Linked DNA regions of Homo sapiens. The protein of the gene in region 1 interacts with the protein of each later gene in a pairwise test. Each region holds a gene or a part of one and is shown in the gene's direction. Other genes may lie near its edges.

Evidence for each region. Proteins that work in one complex are often made in the same cells at the same time.
Region 2: the proteins of GNE (region 1) and KRT85 interact in binary tests that used the Homo sapiens proteins (3 or more experiments, as listed by UniProt).

What each region holds. Positions count from the first base shown.
Region 1 is NC_000009.12:36,239,292-36,248,573, reverse strand, and holds part of GNE (bifunctional UDP-N-acetylglucosamine 2-epimerase/N-acetylmannosamine kinase), read left to right. Parts: intron 1-2,091; coding exon 2,092-2,543; intron 2,544-9,282. UniProt on the Homo sapiens protein: Bifunctional enzyme that possesses both UDP-N-acetylglucosamine 2-epimerase and N-acetylmannosamine kinase activities, and serves as the initiator of the biosynthetic pathway leading to the production of N-acetylneuraminic acid (NeuAc), a critical precursor in the synthesis of sialic acids.
Region 2 is NC_000012.12:52,358,290-52,364,481, reverse strand, and holds the end of KRT85 (keratin, type II cuticular Hb5), read left to right. Parts: exon of another isoform or gene 1-61; coding exon of another isoform or gene 62-115; coding exon 116-176; intron 177-318; coding exon 319-414; intron 415-1,071; coding exon 1,072-1,236; intron 1,237-1,502; coding exon 1,503-1,628; intron 1,629-2,010; coding exon 2,011-2,231; intron 2,232-2,983; coding exon 2,984-3,015; intron 3,016-3,435; coding exon 3,436-3,629; 3' UTR 3,630-4,476; downstream 4,477-6,192.

The sequences.
Region 1 (9,282 bases):
GGTGGGTGGATCACCTGAGGTCAGGAATTTGAGACCAGCCTGGCCAACATGGTGAAACCCTATCTCTACGAAAAATACAAAAAAAAAAAAAATTAGCCAGTTGTGGTGGCGCATGCCCGTAGTCCTAGCTACTCGGGAGGCTGAGGCAGGAGAATCACTTGAACCCGGGAGGCGGAGGTTGCAATGAGCTGAGATCACACCACTGCACTCCAGCCTGGGCAACAAGAGTGAGACTCCGTCTCAAAAAAAAAAAAAGCAAAGGTTGAATAATCTGAGAGAACAAGGCGTATTACATACATCTTGATGTATGTAATAAAAAGTCATTTAGTGCACCCTTGTGGCATGAATATATTAATGCAGTCTCCAAAGAGGATCACAAATACAATACTGTATCTGAAAGAACCTTGCGTTAAAATAAAATTGTCCTTTTCAGACTATTCTTTAAAAACAAGGTGGGAATTCGCTACTAGGAAATACTTAAAGAGTAGAGAAGAAACTTAATGGATAGCTCAGGGATCCACAGATTTTTTTTTTTTTTTTTTTTTTTGAGACGGAGTTTTGCTCTTGTTGCCCAGGCTGGAGTGCAGTGGCGTGATCTCGGCTCACTGCAACTTCCACCTCCCGGGTTCAAGTGATTCTCCTGCCTTAGCCTTCCGAGTAGCTGGGATTACAGGCATGCGCCACCATGCCCGGCTAATTTTGTATTTTTAGTAGAGACGGGGTTTCTCCATGTTGGTCAGGCTGGTCTCAAACTCCCAACCTCAGGTGATCCACCTGCCTCCGCCTCCCAAAGTGCTGGGATTACAGGTGTGAGCCACTGCGTCCGTCCAGATTTTTTTTTAATATAAAATGAATTCTGGCTATTTAGGAGCATCCTCTCAGTAGAACAGAAATTTTAGCTAGAGCCTGAGATGAAAGTTTGAGTGGGTTCTTTTACTGCTCTGAGAAAGCTTTGACAGGAAGACTAGTGGAAGAGAGGCTCTCAGGGAAATGGTAGTAGGTTTTTTATCTGCCTACCACAGTTACCAAGGGTGGAAGAATAGTGTTTATCTGATGAGACCGTTAAATAGGAAATTTGACTAGTACTTAATGAAAATGCATGTTTAAGGTACATTCTAACACAAGAAATTGGTTGCTTCTTGGGAGAAGAATTGGATGACTGGGAGACAAAAGTGAGAGACTTTTCACCATGAAATGTTTTCTTAAAGAAAAAAGGTTTGGCCAGGCACGGTGGCTCACACCTGTAATCCCAGCACTTTGGGAGGACGAGGCGGGCGGATCACGAGGTCAAGAGATTGAGACCATCCTGGCCAACATGGTGAAACCCTGTCTCTACTAAAAATACAAAAATTAGCTGGGCGTGATGGCACACGCCTGTAGTCCCAGCTACTCGGGAGGCTGAGGCAGGAGAATCGCTTGAACCTGGGAGGTGGAGGTTGCAGTGAGTCAAGATCGCACCACTGCACCCCAGCCTGGGCGACAGAGCGAGACTCTGTCTCAAAAAAATAAAAAAAAGGGTAAAAAACATTTTCCCCTAAGTGTATATAAAAAGTGCTGACCACTGTTAAAAGTTTAGTCTCTTTCTTCCTAATAAAAAAATTCTCTGGCCGGGTGCAGTCGCTCACGCGTGTAATCCCAGCACTTTGGTAGGTCAAGGTGGGTGGATCACCTGAGGTCAGGAGTTCAAGACCAGCCTGGCCAACATGGCAAAACCCCATCTGTACTAAAAATAGAAAAATTAGCTGGGTGTGGTGGTACATGCCTGTAATCCCAGCTACGCAGGAGGCTGAGGCAGGAGAATCGCTTGAACCCGGGAGGCAGAAGTTGCAGTGAGCCTAGATCGCGCTACTGCACTCCAGCCTGGGCAACAGAGCAAGACTTCATCTCAAAAAAAAAAAAAAAAAAAAAAAAAAGAATCTTAATCAGGCTGTTTACACTTATGGTCTATGCTTTTTATGTTTGTAAGTTATACTTCAATTTATTTATTTTAATGTTTCTCACTTCAGAGTTGGTGTTAGATTGCTTTTCTTGCATGTTACGGCTCTGTGTTTAAGAACATGTTCTTATATCTTTATTTCTCCCCGGCTTTAGAAATACATATCGAATGATTGAACAAGATGACTTTGACATTAACACCAGGCTACACACAATTGTGAGGGGAGAAGATGAGGCAGCCATGGTGGAGTCAGTAGGCCTGGCCCTAGTGAAGCTGCCAGATGTCCTTAATCGCCTGAAGCCTGATATCATGATTGTTCATGGAGACAGGTTTGATGCCCTGGCTCTGGCCACATCTGCTGCCTTGATGAACATCCGAATCCTTCACATTGAAGGTGGGGAAGTCAGTGGGACCATTGATGACTCTATCAGACATGCCATAACAAAACTGGCTCATTATCATGTGTGCTGCACCCGCAGTGCAGAGCAGCACCTGATATCCATGTGTGAGGACCATGATCGCATCCTTTTGGCAGGCTGCCCTTCCTATGACAAACTTCTCTCAGCCAAGAACAAAGACTACATGAGCATCATTCGCATGTGGCTAGGTACGTATCTCAGACTTTAGTCAGTCTAATGGCTGTTTTTGTCAGAAAATGTTCCGTCTATTTCAATCCTTTTGGAAACTATTATGGATAGAATACTCTGTTAGCAATGAGAAGGCCAAGGTTTTAGTTCATAGACCTTGCCCTGTGGTATGACTTTACCTCTCTGAGGTTTACCTTTTCTGTAAAATAGGCTTAGTGGATTGAGTTTTAAAAATCTCTGCTATATTTATAGAATGGAATGCTTTTAATCCATTAAATATATTAGTTATAAGAACGATCCTAATATGTCAAAAGGGGGAGCTATAAAATTATAAGTGTAATATGCCATTTCATTTTATTTTATTTATTTTATTTTTTGAGATGGAGTCTTGCTCTGTTGCCTAGGCTGGAGTGCAGTGGTGTGATCTTGGCTCACTGCATCCTCTGCCTCCCAGGTTCAAGTGATGCTCCTGCCTCAGCCTCCCAAGTATGTGGGATTGCAAGCGTGGACCACCATGACCGGCTAATTTTTCTATTTTTAATTTCACCACGTTGGCCAGGCTGGTCTCGAACTCCTGACCTCAAGTGATCCGCCCACCTTGGGCTCCCAAAGTGCTGGGATTACAGGTGTGAGCCACTGCACCCAGCTGTAATCTGCCATTTTACTAAAAACTGTAATAATGGAATGGTTAGGAAGTATGTACACCAAGTCATTTATTATATTTATTTCTGGTGTGGGATTATGGGTGTTTTTATGTTTGATTTTCTGAATTTTTTTTTTGTTTTTTGAGACAGAGTCTTGCTCTGTCATCCAGGTTGGAGTGCAGTGGCACAATCTCGGCTCACTGCAACCTCCACCTCCCAGGTTCAAGCGATTCTCCTGCCTCAACCTCCCGAGTGGCTGGGATTACTATGCCTGGCTAATTTCATATTTTTAGTAAAGACAGGGTTTTTCCATGTTGGCCAGGCTGGTCTCGAACTCCTGACCTCAGGTGATCCGCCCACCTCAGCCTCCCAAAGTGCTGGGATTACAAGCGTGAGCCACCGTGCCTGGCCTGATTTTCTGAAATTTTTTACTACATTGGCAAAATGGTCATTTTTTTTTTTTTTTTGAGATGGAGTCTTACTCTGTTGCCTAGCCTGTAGTGCAGTGGCTCAGTCTCGGCTCACTGCAACCTCCACTTCCCGGGTTCAAGCGATTCTCCTGCCTCAGCCTCCTGAGTAGCTGGGGTTACAGGCGCACACCACCACACCTGGCTAATTTTTTTTTGTATTTTTAGTAGAGACGGGGTTTCACTATGTTGGTCAGGCTGGTCTCAAACTCCTGACCTCATAATCCGCCCACCTCGGCCTCCCAAAGTGCTGAGATTACAGGCATGAGCCACCGCGCCTGGCTCATTTTTATTTTTAATGCTTTTCTTATAGAATTGTTGGAATACTCAGATTATGAATGTTGGAAGCAGTAAGCCATAAGTACTTATTAATATAAGGGATTATGATGATTATTAAAAAGCAAAAGTCATAGTTGTAGCCTTAGAGTATATCTTTGTAAATAAGCCCTATGTTCCAAAATTTTTATTGTTCAGTGCTCTAGCTTCCTAGAAATTATCTTTTGCTAATCAGAGGTAAAAAAATCCAAGTTTACAAACAGAATGTCAGTTGGTTAATTTATAGTAAGAGTACTACCTAGGGGACAAATTAGGACTAATAATCTATTTAGGACCTTTCATTTCTAAGAGGCAGATCTATTGAATTATAAAATTAATGAACAGAAAATTGATTTGGTTGGGTCAGGTATGGTGGCTCACCCTGTAATCCCAGCACTTTGGGAGGCTGAAGTGGGAGTATTGCTTGAGCCTAGGAGTTACAAGGCCAGCCTGGGCAACATAGCAAGACGCTGTCTCTACAAAAAATAAGAAAATTAGCTGGGCGTGGTGCTGTGTGCATGTAGTCCTAGTTACCTGGGAGGCTGGGATGGGAGGGTCACTTGAGCCTGAGTAGTTGAGGCTACAGTGATCTGTGATTACACTGCTGCACTCTAGCCTGGGTGACAGAGTAAGACCCTGTCTCAAACAAAACAAAACAAAAAAAAACAAAAAACAATAACAAAAAAAAAACACAGAAAGAAAAAGAAAATTGAATAAGCAAAGAGATTTTGTATATTTTTAATCTAGATTACATTACATCAGGAAAGGAATTGGGCTTTCCTGCTATATAACGTACTCCATTCTACATATTTCTGTTGTTCAGTCTGGAGTGCAGTGGTGCAGTCTTGTCCTCCTGGGCTCAAGTGATCCTACCACCTCAGCCTCCTGAGTAGCTGGGACTACAGGCATGTACCACCATGCCCAGCTAATTTTTAAAATTTTTTTGTAGAGATGGGGTCTCACTATTTTGCCCAGGCTAGTCATGAATTCCTAGGCTCAAGCAATCCTCCTGCCTCGGCCTCCCAAACTGCTGGGTTTATAGGCATGAGCCACCGCACCTGGCCCATTCTAAATATTTCTTATGCTTGGACAGATTTGTAATTATCAAGGGATCGTCTAGATAATGCTGGTGGAACAACCTTCTGTCTCTTCAGTCTCTCCTTTTAGTATGCTTCCGATGAAACACTCTTGGATTCTGTTCTAATTATACCATTAGCTCTCTAGGTATTCTGGAAAACTTGTATCACTGAAAAACTTGTAATGAATAGAAAATAATAATGTGCCAGATGTGGTGGCACATGCCTGTAATCTCTGTACTTTGAGAGGCCAAAGTGGGCAGATCACTTGAGCCTAGGGGTTTGAGAACAGCCTGGGCAACGTGGTGAAACTCTGTCTTTACAAAAAATACAAAAATCAGCCGGGTGTGATGGTGTGTGCCTGTAGTCCCAGCTACTCCGGAGGCTGAAGTGGGAGGATTGCTTGAGTCTGGGAGTTCAAGACTGAAGTGAGCCATGATTGTGCCACTGCACTCCAGCCTCGGTGACAGAATAAGACCCTGTCTCAAAAAAACAAAACACTAGTTTTGGCCAGGTGCCAGTGGCTCATGCCTGTGACCCTAGCACTTTGGGAGGCCCAGGCAGGTGGATCACTTGAGGTCAGGAGTTGGAGACCAGCCTGGCCAACATGGTGAAACCCCATTTCTAGTAAAAATACAAAAATTAGCCAGGTGTGCTGGCACATGCCTGTACTCCCAGCTACTCAGGAGGCTGAGGCAGGAGAATTGCTTGAACCCAGGGAGGTTGCTGTGAGCCGAGATTGCACCACTGCACTCCACACTCCAGCCTGGGTGAAGAAGCGAGACTCCATCTCAAAAAAAAAAAAAAAAAAAAAAACAAGCATAAAACCCAGGCCAGATGCGGTGGCTCACACCTGTAATCCCAGCACTTTGGGAGGCCACGGCGGGCAGATCATGAGGTCAAGAGATTGAGACCATCCTGGCCAACATGGTGAAACCCCATCTCTACTAAAAATACAAAAATTAGCTGAGCATGGTGGCGCACACCTGTAGTCCCAGGTACTTGGGAGGCTGAGGCAGAAGAATTGCATGAAACCCAGGAGGCGGAGGCTGCAGTGAGCCGAGATCGCGCCACTGCACTCCAATCTGGCAACAGAGCGAGACTCCGTCTCAAAACAAAAAACAGCAAATAACCATTAGAAAGCAGAATGTAGCAAAATTGAATTGTACTTGTAGGGCTTAAAGTCCTATTTGGGACAATTTAAGCAGTTCTTTATGGAAAGAAGGACAACAGAACAGCTAAAATTGCTTTTTTTTTTTTTGGTCTTTAAACCAGTGAAAAAGAAAACTCAAGACAATGAGGCAGAGCCATCCACCACTGGGCAGTAATACATTTTATATAAAACCTGTTCCTGCTTCTTGATATGCAACTTCTTTTTTTTTTTCTTTTTTTTGAGACAGAGTCTTGCTCTGTTGCCAAGGCTGGAGTTCTGTCACCTAGGCTGGAGTGCATTAGCGCAGTCTCGACTCACTGCAACCTCTGCCTCCCAGGTTTAAGCAATACTCCTGCCTCAGCCTCCTGAGTAGCTGGGACTACAGGCGCACACCACCACACCTGGCTAATTTTTGTATTTTTAGTAGAGATGGGGCTTCATCATGTTCGCCAAGTTCGTCTCGAACTCCTGACCTCAGGTGATCCGCCCTCCTCAGCCCTCCAAACTGCTGGGATTATAGGCATGAGCTACCGCACCTGGCCTTAATATGGAACTTCTCATGCTATCACTCTGCTTACAGGAAGATAGGGTTGGGTAGGCCATATATAACATTGCAGCTTTGTAACCAGAGTGTTAATATATAACAATCTTAATTTTAAAATTAGCAATGTTAAAAAGGCATGTTAAATTCCTAATAATGAAAGGCATATCACAGTAAATATAGGACTTTACAACAGAAAACAAAATGCCTTTATGGAAAGGATTTATGAAAGGGCTGAGGCTGCTGAATTATGGATAGATACAAAGACTGGTAATAATATCAGAAGTGCCAGGTGGAGAAGCAGGTGCAAACTTTGTATGAAATGTATTCTTGCCAGGGATGAGTTGCTCTGGCTCATTGTCTTGCGTTTTACTTTTCCCTGGTCTAAAAAGACTTCTAGTTTTTGCTACTTTGCCATCCTTCTTTCATAAAGAAACTGTTGCTGGGCACAGTGGCTCGCGCCTGTAATCCCAGCACTTTGGGAGGCCGAGGCGGGCAGATCACAAGGTCAGGAGATAGAGACCATCCTGGCCAACATGGTGAAACCCCATCTCTACTAAAAAATACAAAGATTAGCTAGGCGTAGTGGCATAGGCCTGTAGTCCCAGCTACTCAGGAGGCTGAGGCAGGAGAATTGCTTGAACCCACAAGGTGGAGGTTGTAGTGAGCCAAGATCGTGCCACTGCACTCCAACCTGGGCGACAGAGTGAGACTCTGTCTTAAAAAAAAAAAAAAGTAAATGAAACAAAAAGCTGGTTCTTTGAAAAGATAAATAAAACTGTTAGACCATTGGCAAGATTAACCAAGAAAAGAAGGGAGAAAATCCAAATAACCTCACTAAGAAATGAAACAGGAGATATTACAACTGACACTACTGAAATACAAAAGATCATTCAAGGCTACTATGAACACCTTGACACACATAAACTAGAAAACCTAGAAGAGATGGACAAATTCCTGGAAAAATACAACCCTACTAGCTTAAATCAGGAAGAATTACATACCCTGAACAGGTCAATAACAAGCAGCAAGATGGAAATGGTAATTTAAAAATTACCAACAAAAAAAATTCCATGACCAGATGGATTCACAGCAGAATTCTACCAGACATTCAAAGAAGAATTGGTACCAATCCTTTTGACACTATTCTACAAGATAGAGGAAGAAGGAACCCTCCCTAATTTATTCTGTGAAGCCCCCATGACCCTAATACCAAAACCAGGAAAGGACATAACAAAAAAAACAACAGGCCAATATCCTTGATGAACATAGATGCTAAAATCCTTAACAAAATACTAGCTAATCAAATCCAACAACATATCAAAAAGATAATCCTCCATGATCAAGTGGGTTTCATACCAGGGATGCAGGGATGGTTTAATGTATACAAGTCAGTAAATGTGATGGACCACATAAACAGAATTAAAAATCACATGATCATTTCAGTAGATGCAGAAAAAGCATTAAACAAAATCCAGCATCCCTTTATGATTAAAACTCTCAGCAAAATCAGCATACAAGGGACATACCTTAATGTAATAAAAGCCATCTATGACAAACCCACAGCTAATGTAATACTGAATGGGGAAAAGTTGAAAGCATTCCCTCTGAGAATTGGAACAAGACAAGGATGCCCACTCTCACCACTCCTCTTCAACATGGTACTGGAAGTCTTAGCCAGAGCAATCAGACAAGAGAAGAAAAGGGCATCCAAATCAGTAAAGAGGAAGTCAAACCGTCACTCTTTGCTGACAATATGATTATTTACCTTGAAAATCCTAAGGACACCTCCAGAAAGCTCCTAGAACTTATAAAAGAATTCAGCAAAGTTTCTGGATACAAGATTAATGTACACAAATCAGTAGCTCTTCTATACACCAACAGCGACCAAGCGGAGAATCAAACCAAGAACTCAACCCCTATTACAACAGCTGCAAAATTAAATTAAAATAAAATAAAATAAGTAAAATAAAATAATAAAATGAAATATAAAATAAAATAAAATACTTAGGAATATACCTAACCAAGGAGTCAAAAGACCTCTACAAGGGATATTACAAAACACTGCTGAAAGAAATCATAGGCTGGGTGCAGTGGCTCACACCTGTAATCCCAGCAATTTGGGAGGCCAAGGCGGGCAGATCATTTGAGTTCAGGAGTTTGAGACTAGCCTGGCCAACATGGTGAAACCCTGACTCTACTAAAAATACAAAAATTAGCTGGGCATGGTGATGTGCACCTGTAGTCCCAGATACTTGGGAGGCCGAGGCAGGAGAATCGCTTGAACCTGGGAGGCGGAAGTTGCAGTGAGCCGAGATCGCACCATTGCACTGCAGCCTGAGCAACAAGAGTGAGACTACATCAAAAAGAAAAAAAAAAGAGAGAAAAAGAAAGAAAGATAGAAAGAAAGAAATCATAGACAACATGAACAAATGGAAACACATCCCATGCTCATGGATGGGTAGAGCTGATACTGCGAAACACATCCCATACTCATGGATGGGTAGAGTTGATATTGCGAGAATGACCATACTGCCAAAAGCAATCTACAGATTCAATGCAA
Region 2 (6,192 bases), on another chromosome or scaffold:
ACAACATCTGGAGGGGATTAATCCCTTTTCAATCCCCGGAAGAACTTGCCCAGGAGTTGGGATGGTATTCAAGGTCCAGTTTCTCAGCTCCAGACCTTCTCTCTCCCACACCCAGGTATGAAGAGGAGGTGGCCCTGAGAGCCACAGCAGAGAATGAGTTTGTCGTTCTAAAGAAGGTGAGGGGCTGGTCATGGGGCAAGGAGGAGGGGGCCCATCAGTGCAAACTCCAGCGAGGGGCAGGGTCACCATGCTGACCAAAGGCACCTTTCTTTGGTCTCCTCTCACATGCATGTCCCCTCCTCTTTGTCCCACGGCCAGGACGTGGACTGTGCCTACCTGCGGAAATCAGACCTGGAGGCCAATGTGGAGGCCCTGGTGGAGGAGTCTAGCTTCCTGAGGCGCCTCTATGAAGAGGTAAGGGGGCAACTGCCACCCAGCCAGGGCAGGTGGAGGGGTGTTTTGGAGACAGGGGAGCAGTGAGGCAAGGGTGCATGTGTGTGCCTATGTTTGCCAATGTGCAATGTAAGTGTGAAAAGAGCTTGCACATACGTGCTGGGGCCCACAATACAGAGGCCATGTCCACGTTCATGTGTGAGAGGAGCATGGGGTGTACATGTTCTTGGGCTGCTCTGTGTCTGTGACCTCTCTGCATGTTGGTGTGCTGCCTGTGTGAGTGCCAGTCTACAGATGGGCAAGAGAGTGTGCATGTGTGGTGGGGGTCAGGATGGCTTCGCACATAGGGCATGGTCCTCATTAATGGACTGACTAATCACTCATCCTAGCCTCCAAACCCCAGCTCCCCTGCTGGGTGACTTTGGACCAGATCTTTTTCACCCTCTGGGCCTCAGTTTTCCCACTTTTAAGGCAGACACTGTTCCCAGATGGCCTCTACAGCCCCTTTCAGCTTTGTTGTTTTTAAGGAGCCTGTGCATGAGTGAAGGTGGTAGGAGCAGGAGTCATGTAACCTTCATGACCAGTGCCCGGTCTGGGAAGTGGACATTGTCCCCTGGGGTGGATCACGTGGCCCAGATCAGGCACTAGAAGCAAATGCACTGGCTGTTGGCCCCACAGGAGATCCGCGTTCTCCAAGCCCACATCTCAGACACCTCGGTCATAGTCAAGATGGACAACAGCCGAGACCTGAACATGGACTGCATCATCGCTGAGATCAAGGCTCAGTATGACGATGTTGCCAGCCGCAGCCGGGCCGAGGCTGAGTCCTGGTACCGTAGCAAGGTGAGTGGCACAGGACACCTGCCTGCTAAGCATGGCAGTGGGAGGGAAGTTAGGCATCTATTAGAAAAGATTTCTCTTGCCTGGGGATTCTGACCCATGAGGACAGTATGAGAAAAGCCAGTAGTTCTCAGGTTGAAGTGGCAGGGCAGGACTGCCATGTGTGGTTGCACAGGCTGAGCACCGTACAACCTGTATAGTCATCTGTGGTGTCCTGAATGGATGGGGGGCCCCACCCTGAGCCTCATGAGCATCTCTACTTCCTCCAGTGTGAGGAGATGAAGGCCACGGTGATCAGGCATGGGGAGACCCTGCGCCGCACCAAGGAGGAGATCAACGAGCTGAACCGCATGATCCAGAGGCTGACGGCCGAGATTGAGAATGCCAAGTGCCAGGTGGGGTCTGTGGAGGATTCAAATACGCAGCACAGGCAGGCTGCAGCACCTGGCCCTAATCAGGCTTCACAGTGTGCCCATGAGGAAGCAGGGACCCAGAGGGAAGGGAGGGGCTCTATCATATTTCACAGCAATCAGACCATGTCACTGACTTCCAAAGGAGGATCCAGCCCCTTCCTTGGCCACCCTGTGACCGCCATCAAGGAGAGATGATGAAAAGCCCACCCATCTCCTCCCTCATATTCACAGCCCCATTAACTACCTGGCCACGGGCCAACCTTCTCTCCAGGACCCTCCTCTCCCTGCCCTGGCTCCATCAGCTTGGGTGAGCCAAGCTGTGGCTTCTCTTTCTCATCCTGGCCCTTGTATCTCCACCTGATAGCGTGCCAAGCTGGAGGCTGCTGTGGCTGAGGCAGAGCAGCAGGGTGAGGCGGCCCTCAGCGATGCCCGCTGCAAGCTGGCTGAGCTGGAGGGCGCCCTGCAGAAGGCCAAGCAGGACATGGCCTGCCTGCTCAAGGAGTACCAGGAGGTGATGAACTCCAAGCTGGGCCTGGACATCGAGATCGCCACCTACAGGCGCCTGCTGGAGGGCGAGGAACACAGGTGGGGCTAAGAGGACTTTGTGGGGTTTCAGAGGTGGAGGCTGTGGTCCTCCAGGAGTGAATTTCCTTGAGCTGAGTGTGAGCTACAACTCTGGCCATGGCTAATACAATAGCTTCAATAATAATAATAATAATAACTGAATGCTTCTGTGCTAGACCTGTGCTAAGTGTTTATTTTATAATCCTCACAATCCAATAAGATAGATATGGTTTTTCCCATCTTTTTATCTTTAGATAAAGAAGCAGGCTCAGAATTCAGTGCCTTTATCATGGCTACGCAGTTAATAAGCAGAAGAGCTGGGACCTGCACCCAAGTCTCATGCCTCCCAAATCCGTCCTTGTTGAATAGCTTCCTACTGAAGCTGCTGCCACACAGGCCTGTGTGTTATGATGATGATGCACTTCTATATGCATTTAGCTCTTCATCAACCACAAAGCCCCTTCACACCCTGGTGTATCTGATTCAACTCTCCTTCCTGTGAGCTTGATTGGCACCATCCAGGCTGGCCACCATCACTCAAACTAGGGGCACTGTTCATAATCTTACCCACTGCTGCTGAAAATCAGAAAGCCTTGTCTTCATGGTTAAAACCATCAAAGAAAGAAAGCATTTAATGCAGATTTGAGGGAGCCCTTCTTGCCTTTCAGGGGTAGACTCTGTACACAGGATGACCCTCTCTGTCCCCAAGCAACCATCAGTCTCAAGGAATCCAACTCAGTGTCTGGAACTAACAGAGTTTTCTTTCTCCATAGGCTGTGTGAAGGTGTGGGCTCTGTGAATGTCTGTGAGTATCTGCCTGAAATTCTCCTGGAAAAATGGCTTTTTTGATAGAAAAGCTGAACTCATTGGCCTAACCCATGGAGCCTCGAGTGTTCCCCCAACTGTTTCACCCTCCCCTGGCTCCTCAGTGGGGGCCATGACAGGTGTTAGAGAAAGCTGAGCTGAGTGCTCTTCGCAAGTGTTGACAGTGAGCTATAGGCCATGGACCTGTGGCCTGGCAGCTTTGCTCCCCGGGGTCCAGGGGTCCTCACTTCCTTCCTGCCCCAGTTCCCTAGATGGGCTGTGCATCTCAGGGACAGGGCCTGCATTGTTGACCACCAATTCCTTGGAGAGGGAGGCAGCTCCTGCAGTGCCCTGGGGCCTGTTGTAGGGTGGGTGAGATTGCAGGGAGCTGCTCACCCCTCCATGTCTCCTCTCTCCACAGGTGTCAGCAGCTCCCGTGGTGGAGTCTCCTGTGGGGGCCTCTCCTACAGCACCACCCCAGGGCGCCAGATCACTTCTGGCCCCTCAGCCATAGGCGGCAGCATCACGGTGGTGGCCCCTGACTCCTGTGCCCCCTGCCAGCCTCGTTCCTCCAGCTTCAGCTGCGGGAGTAGCCGGTCGGTCCGCTTTGCCTAGTAGAGTCATGGAGCCAGGGCTTCCTGCCAAGCACCTGCCTGCCTGCATCACTGCACTGAATGGCATGTGAATGGAAAATGTGTGCTTGCTTCCAGAATCTTCTGGATGTTCCTACAGAGGGAAAGACCTACAGAGGGAAAGACCCTCGGGCCGCTCCCCTGCGCCTTTTCATGCTAGGGAGATGCATCCTAGTTGTCCTCCTGGCAGCTGTTTTCAGAGGCATTCCCAGCCCTTCACTTAACTCCTACTTAGCTCCAAAATACCTGTATCCAATTTGTATTATTCCCCCAGCTCTCAGGGACAAGACCAGTCCCCCAGCGTGGTGGTCAGCACGGAAGCTCCACCTTCTGGGTGGAGGCGCCATCCTAACCATCCAGCCAGGCCACCCACAACCCGAGAATCAGGGAGAAAGTCCCTCCCCAGCAGCCCCCTCCTCCTGGCTGGGAAGAATGGTCCCCCAGCAAGCACTTGCCTGTTCATTCCTGTTCATGTTTTGCTTCTCTCTCAGACTGCCTTCCTGCTTCTGGGCTAACCTGTTCCAGCCAGGCTCCTCATGTGACCTCGCAGTTGAGAAGCCCATTATCGTGGGGCATCCTTTTGCCTACAGCCCCTGGTTAGGGCACTTTGGACAGGTCTTGCTATTCAGTGAACCTTTGTACATTTCAAAGAAGACTCCATGGCTGCTCCAGATGCCCCCTTGCTGGGTGCAGGTGGGGACTGTCCAATGCAGAGCTGGCGGGACAGAGAGTTAAGCCACTTCCTGGGTCTCCTTCTTGTGACTGTCTATGGGTGCATTGCCTTCTGGGTTGTCTCGATCTGTGTTTCAATAAATGCCGCTGCAATGCAAGAGCGTGTGGTCTTGTGAGCAACTTCTCCACTCCCTTCTTGCCTCATCTCCAGATGACCAATCCCAGTCCAGCCCCATGCAGTGTTTCCCCAGTCACCCCCCAGAAACTCTGCTGCTTCCTGTCCACTTCCACAGTCTGATTCCACTCAGTCGCCCTCAGTCCCCTCAGGCCTGGACTACAGCCCAGCTCCCCACTAATGACCTCTTTCTCCCTGACCCACCCTGCGTACTCCCAGCAGCCAAAACTCCATCCCAAACTCACTGCTCTCACCCTCTCCTGCCTGGCTCAAGTCACTTCCTGGCACATGTGTGTGCTTCTTATGCCAAATGCAGGCTTCCTCTGTCACCTCCTTCCCCAGCTACTCCTCAGCCCTGTCCAACCCCTCCATGCGGTGCTCATCCTCCCAGTCATGGACTCCACCCCAAGGAGACAAGTCTACCCTCTGAGGCAGCCCAGAGACACTCTCTCCTACATACCCCTTGTGGACACATAGGCCATCCCACATCCCTCCTCCCATTTGCCTTTGCTCAGGGCCCTCCTCTGCTCCCCAAAGCTACCACCCTCACCCCTACACCCCCCAGCCCTCCCCCGCCCCCATCATATAGTGTCTGGAACCCTGAGAATCTCTGGTTTTGTCTCTGCGGATCTGGGCCAGGGATGTCAACGGGTGTGTCTGGATCAAGCTGGAAATTCCATAAGGACAGGAAGTATCTCCTCCTGGCTCTGACCTCCCACTGAGTCCCAGGATGGGGCTCCAAGATATGCCAGGCCTGGGATGTGCTGGATGAATGCAGGCAGCTGGTGCAGCAGGAGGTAGAGACATCCAGTCCTCTTGCCCTCAGCTCCATCTCCCCATTAGCTGTCACCGTCATCAAGCAGGTGTCTGCCAGCCCCCTGCTGCCCCATCCTGCAGCCTCTTTCTCTGAGAGGAGAAGATAGGGCCTTGTGCATCCTCACTTTAGGCCCAAAGGGCTGTAGCCCCACTGGAGGCTGCTGGCTGCTTCTGAGTGCTTAGGCTGCTGCTCTGTTTGAGGTTTGCTGGCTGACACCTGGCGGGCCTCCTCCAGGTCTCTTGCCTGCTGCCTCCTTTTTCCCAGCTGTTTGGGCCCTGAGGGCATGGTGACAATCACAATAGGCCAACTTTCAATTTAGGGGACATCATTCACCCACAGGAAACGTTAAATCCCAGGGGCTGAAACATCAGGAAATGGAAATTTGAGCCCCAATTCTGCCAAGACTGCCAGGTCTCGGTGAGTCCTTGGGCAGGAAGTGGCTTTCATGCTTTGCATGTCAGTCTGGGGTCTATGAGATGAGTGGGTAGAGTCCTTACCAGGTCTGCTGCCTCCTATGGTTCTGAGATGCTACAGAGAGTCTATGCTTGGGGAAAACAGCTTCATGTTACCATGGATCTGGGCTGAGCAAAACAAAAATGCCAAATCTGATACCCAAAAAATAACGGCACCATGGATTGAAAAGTCAAACAGCCAGAACCTGGGAGATAGGAATGAATTTTTTAATACATTTCCGTGCTTTGTGTGCAAATACCATTCAACAGATTCAGCTGGCCAGAGGTGCCTTTTGCTTATGGGGAGGTAAGCCTCTGCCCCAGCCCTCCTTGCAGCCAACAGCAAAAACCCACCACAGCAAGCTCTTCTGGCTCAAAGGATGCTGGGGCTCCTGCAGCTCTCTCCTGATCAAAGAACTATTCCCCTCGG